Homo sapiens: one gene and its partner. The protein of the gene in region 1 interacts with the protein of each later gene in a pairwise test. Each region holds a gene or a part of one and is shown on either strand. Other genes may lie near its edges. The genes, in order: LATS2 and HGF.

Region 1 (3,832 bases):
AAAATTCACAGGGAGCCCAAATACTCAAAGCAATCCTAGGCAAAAAGAACAAAATTGTTACCTGACTTCAAAATATGTTACAAGCCTAGAGTAACTGAAACTGCATGGTATTGGTATAAAAACAGACACATAGACCAATGGAACAGAATAGAGAACCCAGAAATAAGTCCACGTATTTACAGCCACCTGATTTTTGACAACGGTGCCAAGAATGTACACTGAAAAAGAGACATGCTGGGAAAACTAGATATCCATATGCAGAAGAATGAAACTAGACCCCAATCTCTCACCATATAGGAATGTCAACTTAAAACAGATTAAAGACCTAGAAATAAGACCAGAGGCTATGAAAATATACTCCAGGACATTGGTTTGAGCAAAGATTTTTATGGCTAAAATCTCAAAAGCACAGGCAAAAAAACCCCAAAGTAGACAAATGGGACTATATTAAGCTAAAAAGCTTCTGCAGAGCAAAGGAAACAACAGAGTAAAGAGGATACCTGTGTTGAACAGGAGAAAATATTCACAAACTATTCATCTGACAAAAGACTATTATTCAGAATATACAAGGAACTCAACTCAACAGCAAAAAAAATATCAAATAATCCCATTAAAAAGTAAGCCAAAAGGCCAGATATGGTGGCTCACGCCTGTAATCCCAGCACTTTGGGAGGCTGAGGCAGGCGGATTACTTGAGGTCAGGAGTTTGAGACCAGCCTGACTAACATGGTGAAACCCCGTCTCTACTAAACATACAAAAATTAGCTGAGCATGGTGTCGCACACCTGTAGTCCCAGCTCTCAGGAGGCTGAGGCAGGAGAATAGCTTGAATCCAGAAGGCAGAGGTTGCAGTGAGCCGAGATTTCACCACTGCACTCCAGCCTGGGCAATAGAGCAAGACTCCGTCTTAATTAAAAAATAAATAAATAAAATAAGGCCAGGCGCGGTGGCTCACACCTGTAATCCCAGCACCCTGGGAGGCTGAGACAGGTGGATCATCTGAGGTCGGAAGTTTGAGACCAGCCTGAACAACATGGTGAAACCCTGTCTCTACAAAAACATAAAACTAGCTGGGCGTGGTGGTGCATGCCTGTAATCCCAGCTGCTCGGTAGGCTGAGGCAGGAGAATCACTTGAACCCGGGAGGCGGAGGTTGTGGTGAGCTGAGATCGTGCCATTGCACTCCAGCCTGGGCAACAAGAGCGAAACTCTGTCTCAAAAAGAAAAAAAAGTGAGCTAATGACCTGAATAGACACTTGTCAAAAGAAGATACACAAATGGCTAAGAGGTGCATGGAAAGATGCTCATTAACCATCAGGGAAATGCAAATGAAAACCACAATGAGATATAATCTCTCCCCAGTTAGAACGACTATTATCAAAAAGGAAAAAAAAGAAACTAAAAATAGAACTACCATACAATCTACCAAACCCATTATTGGGTATTTATCTAAAGGAAAGGAAATCAGTATATCAAAGGGATACCTGCACCCCATGTTTATTGCAGCACTATTCACAACAGTAAAAACATGGAATCAACTGAAGTGTCCATCAACTGATGAACAGATAAAGAAAATGTGGTCTGTGTACACCATGGGATACTATTCAGCCATAAAAAAGAATGAAATCCTGTCATTTGGAGCAACATGAATGGAACTGGAGGTCATTATGTTAAGTGAAATAAGCCAGGAACAGAAGTTCGGTTAGAACACCACACACTGTTACTGATATGTGGGAGCTAAAATAATTGATCTCATAGAGGTAGAGAGTAGAATGATAGTTACCAGAGGTGGGAAAGGGTGTGTGTGTGTTGAGGGGAGATGAGAAGTTAATTGGTGCAAACATACAGCTGGATAGAAGGAACAAACTCTAACTAGTATGACTATGGTTAGTAAAAATGTATTCAATATTTCAAAATAGCTAGAAGAGAGGTCTTGAAATGCTTCCAACACAGAAATGATAAATACACCAGGCAATGGATACTCTAAATACCTTGACTTGATCATTACATATCCTATGCATGTAACAAAATATCACATGTTCCCCACAAATCTACAAATACTATGTATAAATAAAAAATAAACGGCTGGGTGTGGTGGCTCACACGTGTAATTCCAGCACTTGGGGAGGCCGAGGTGGGCAGATCACCTGAGGTCAAGAGTTCGAGACCAGTCTGACCAACATGGCGAAACCCCCGTCTCTACTAAAAACACAAAAAAATGGCCAGGCGTGGTGGTAGGCACCTGTAACCCCAACTACTCGGGAAGCTGAGGCAGGAGAATCGCTTGAACCCAGGAGGCAGAGGTTGCAGCGAGCCAAGATCGCGCCATTGCGCTCCAGCCTGGGTGACAGAGCAAGACTCCGTCTAAAAATAAATTAAAAAATAAAAAATAAAAATAAAAAAAACACAAATGAAAAGTATATCTGTAAAAAAATCAGTGAATACGGGACACTGAAAAGAACACAAATCTGGTTTTCAGGCTTTGGAATTATTGGCTTTGTGTGATTTAAATCTGTTACATTTTAATTTAAATAGTTTCATCAATAATTACCTTCTTCAGCACTTCAGTGTCAACTAAGGTATATTTAAATCATTAGTTACTAACTAAACACTTAAAAGAATAAATGGAATCACTACTAGATACATTTTTCTTCCAAAATCCCACAATCTCAATTTACAAAACCTTAAACTTTGTTTCTACTCATTCAAATGTTCTATTATTAATCCATGATGAATTTTGTTAAGCGAGGACATACCCTAAAACTTAATTTGCTAATTTACCTACAATGTAAATTGTAGATTACCTACATTACGCTGGCTACATTATGCACAGCTATCTCTGATTCTTCAGAAGAGTCAAGGGGAAAGGCGAAAGGGAGGTCACACCATTTGCAACTTCTCCAAGTTGTTGGCCCCAGAACCAGACTGTCGCCCATTAGCCGTTTTGATGATAAGGGGTATACAGTCGAAACAGAAAAGGGATTGTGCGTGCTTCCTATTGCCAGTAGAGGGATGAGCCGGGAACAAATAGTAAAAATGAAGTGTGAAATTACTTTGGCCATTTCTTGCTCCAGCTGCAGCCTCCGGTTAACCTTCTGCTGGTAGGTTTTGATGACATTCTCCACGTGCTGCTCCATGAAGAACTTAAAGGCGTATGGCGAGTAGCTCTTGATGCGTGACTCTCTCTTCTCTTCGTCTCTGCTGTTTTTGCGGACGGGAACGGGAGAGGTCTGAATCTGCTTTTTATCCTTTCCGCCTTTGTCCCCCTTGGCGCTTTTGCGGCTCTTGTCGCCGCCCTCGGGCTCGTTGGGGCCCGCACGGAGGCTCTGCTCCATGCCTGCGCACAGGCTGTCCAGGTCGTACTGCTCCGACTTGCTGCGCAGCAGCAGGTGCTTCGGGTAGGGCGGAGGCGGGCACCTCCGGTCTGGGCCTCCGTACTCCACGTCCAGCGGGAAGGCGCCTGCGCCGCCCAGCGCCAGGGCATGCTCCTCCTTGGCGTCCAAGCCCTCCGCAGCCGGGGCGGGGGCGGGGGCGGGGGCCGGGGCAGGCGCGGGCACCCAGGCGGGGTGCGAGGGCCCCACAGCCGTCTGCGGCTCCGGCCTCAGCACACGCACGCTCTTCACCGGGTGCAAGATGTGCGCGGCCGTGACAGCCGTCACGGTGTTGGGGGCGGGCAGGGAGGGCTCGGCCTTGCCAGGCGGACCGGGCCGCGGCTGGTGGCTGTTGAAGGAGTTGGTCCTGCTGGGCACTGGGCAGTCAGGCCGGAAGGCCACGTGCGCGCGCGGCGGCGCCTCCAGGCCCGGCTTCTGCAGGGAGTCCCGGCGGGCCAGGGT
Region 2 (3,101 bases), on another chromosome or scaffold:
TAAAAATGTACTTAAATAGGTTAAATCTAAGCCTTGCTGCTGTGATTGGCTTCTAGCTCACTGCCTTTAAATTTTAAAAAATTTAAGAGGAAAATTTCCAAGTCTCCAAAGTTTTATAAATACCCTTCATCAAGTCATGCATTAAAGTATATATTGGAGAAAAAAATAAAAATACTTTTCTCAACCTGGAAGATTTTAGCCTAATAAAGCTTTTTTGAAGTAAAAGACAACTTGTAAAAGGAAAGAAACTAGTTTGTCTCAACTCTGTATTCATTTATTTTTTTTTTGAAGTAGAGTGGAATCTGTTGAATCAGATATTTTATCAAGATATGTTTATTTTTTCTTATTTCATTTTACAAAGTTCACTCCTAATGCCATATGTAACAGACATTTAAATTTTGTGTTCTGTATAACAGCCAAATTATCATATTTATCATTGTATTTGTCATGCTTAGCTAAAGATCATGTATTTGTTGAGAAATAGAATAACAAAAAGTAATAGGATAGGCTTTGAATTTTTGCAGAAATCTTCCTGTACAAAACACCTTTAAAAATAATTTTTTGAATGGTGTGAATCCAGTAGTCCCATTTCTCTGACTTAGTTTTCTTGAGTGATTTTTATCAAGGCCAAGTCCCCAAACAATTCCCTACCAGCTCTTTAGAGTACTGTTCAATCTGGACTAAAATGGTTTTAAGTTTATGGAGAGCTTAGTCCACAGAATATAGGGCGGCGAGTCCAGAAATGCTTATACAATTTTTTTTTCATAATAAGATATGTGCTGGCATCAAGAAACTTAAAGTGGAAGCAAAAAGACATCCAACTAGTTGCTGGTCTCTATCATCTTATCTGATGGTATTTCTATTTTCCTTATATAATACACCATTTTAGTAAGAACTCCTAGAAATTTCAAGAGCATATTGCCAAAATATAAAGTATATTTCATAGTTTCTTCTGGCTGAACCAGTGAAATTTTATTATTGCATATTAATGATATTTGTAAAACTTTTATAAAAATTGTCATAATTTTAAATACTCACATTTTAAAAATACTTCTTTAATGACTCTTCCTCTAAATTTCCTGGAAATACAGATAAAGATTAGCTAGATACAAGATACAGCTAAGTATTTAGACATTTTGAGGCTAGTATTTTTCATTTTATTAAAGGCTAAAAACAATACCACCAATAAATCATCAAACAAACCGTACAAAGTAATTCTCTCTTTGGGAGGCTCCTTTCGTGATAGAGGGACATGGGTGGAATTGACAATGAAACTTAGATGAACAAGGTCCATGTTATTTTAGGTGGTAGAACAGGGTAGAGTCATGTCATTATTTGCTGGTGGAAGACACTATTTACCAGGTGTTCTTTGCTGAATAAATCATTAAACATTTTTAAAAATCCAACAATCCACTTTATTTTGTGTCATTGACAAAAGGATCTTTTAAATCAGAAGGTTTCAATGCAATTTTTGGTTTGGCTGTTTGAATAATGGTTATGTACTGTTATAATTGTAGACATTTTCTCACGTCTACCAGGAATTGAAGTGTAAAACTAAAATATTTTTCATAATGCCTCTGCCGTGCAGAAGGAATGATAATCCTTTTGTATACTTCTTTAATTTTATTGTAAAATGTGTAATGACTTTTACCTATATGCTGTGGGCAGGTCCTCAGTAAAATCTATTGAGTCAATTTCTAGTATTAACAGGCTTTTGCTTGCTATCTAAGTGTTTCAAATTATGGGAAGTGTGAGACACTGGAAGGCAAGAAAATTAACAATAATGGCATGTGATAGCAAAATTGTATTTCACTTATTCCTGTGAATATTTCTTGTTGGTACCAATGGTACTGTACAAAGTGAATGTTATAGCCACAACATTCTCTTGAAAAGAACACTGTCAAGAAGTGGGAAATTGCTGTCAGGCATTTCATTGTTGTTTTTAAACTTTTTTAAAAGAAATACTGGTTTTGCAATATAGAGATCATGTGGTAAAGAATTTTAATAAGATCTTATACTAAAAAGCCTTAAATCAATTTATTGAGATTCAAAAAATACTATTATAATTAATTACATCCCATACATATAGGCAAACTCATTTAAAAAATAAAACTAATTTTGGTAAAAGTACATGGCCTTTGTTTTTAAAATACATAATTTTAAAATAAATCACTTGTCATGATAAAGTCCAAAAAGAAGTTATCATTCAACATTCAACTAAGGTTGGAGCTAAGAATTTACTAATACAAAAAAAGTTAAAATTTTTTGGACCATATATATCTTGACAGTGTAACTTTTAAGTAGGTTCATTTCCATTTGCACAGAAAGTTTCTGTCTTTAGGAAACTGAAAATGAAATACTGTGGATGCTATGACTGTTTGTCTTGTATGTAAATAGGAAATTAATAAGCTGCCTATTGAGTGGTATAGCTGTATGCTTACCCAAAAAAGGGAACACTGTGGTTATGACTTGTATTATAAACTTTCTGTAGTTAATAAAGTTGTTATTTTTATAACCATGATTATATTATTATTATTAATAAAATATTTTATCAAAATGCTTATTTTCTCTGTTATGATTATTTACATGTACATATTTATATCTGTCTTAGGGCCTAAATGCAGAAAATAGCAATGTTGACTTCACTGACAAAAATTACATACACGTTCTTGCAAAAACTATAATACAACTTGTTTATAGAACTAAGACAAAAATCATTATTTTATTCCAACTAATATCCACAGCAATATAGTTGGTCTTCAGTAAACCATTAATCTCTATGTACTTTAGTTTCTCCCACCGTAAAATGTAACTATTTGTTTATTCTTCATATTTGCTAGAATGGTGCTATGTTGTTATTTGCCAATATATACAAAATATTCCCATGAATTTTCACCTAATTTCCTTTCTCATGCCACTATATAATACAAAGGTGATTTTAAATTATTTAATGAATCACTTTGGGTATCTCTTTAAAGTGTGCATTCAGTTAAGAATAAATAAGAATCCAATGGATTCATTTAATTCAAATTGGAAGAACTAGTCCTCAATGATCTAAGCAAAGAGAGCTCTATAACACCACTGATTATTTCAAATTGTAT

The links.
Region 2: the proteins of LATS2 (region 1) and HGF come close enough for resonance energy transfer, tested with the Homo sapiens proteins (one large-scale study listed by BioGRID).

Annotation. Positions count from the first base shown.
Region 1 is NC_000013.11:20,984,829-20,988,660, forward strand, and holds part of LATS2 (serine/threonine-protein kinase LATS2), read right to left. Parts: coding exon 3,053-3,832; intron 1-3,052. UniProt on the Homo sapiens protein: Negative regulator of YAP1 in the Hippo signaling pathway that plays a pivotal role in organ size control and tumor suppression by restricting proliferation and promoting apoptosis.
Region 2 is NC_000007.14:81,698,466-81,701,566, reverse strand, and holds the end of HGF (hepatocyte growth factor isoform 1 preproprotein), read left to right. Parts: 3' UTR 1-2,557; downstream 2,558-3,101. UniProt on the Homo sapiens protein: Potent mitogen for mature parenchymal hepatocyte cells, seems to be a hepatotrophic factor, and acts as a growth factor for a broad spectrum of tissues and cell types.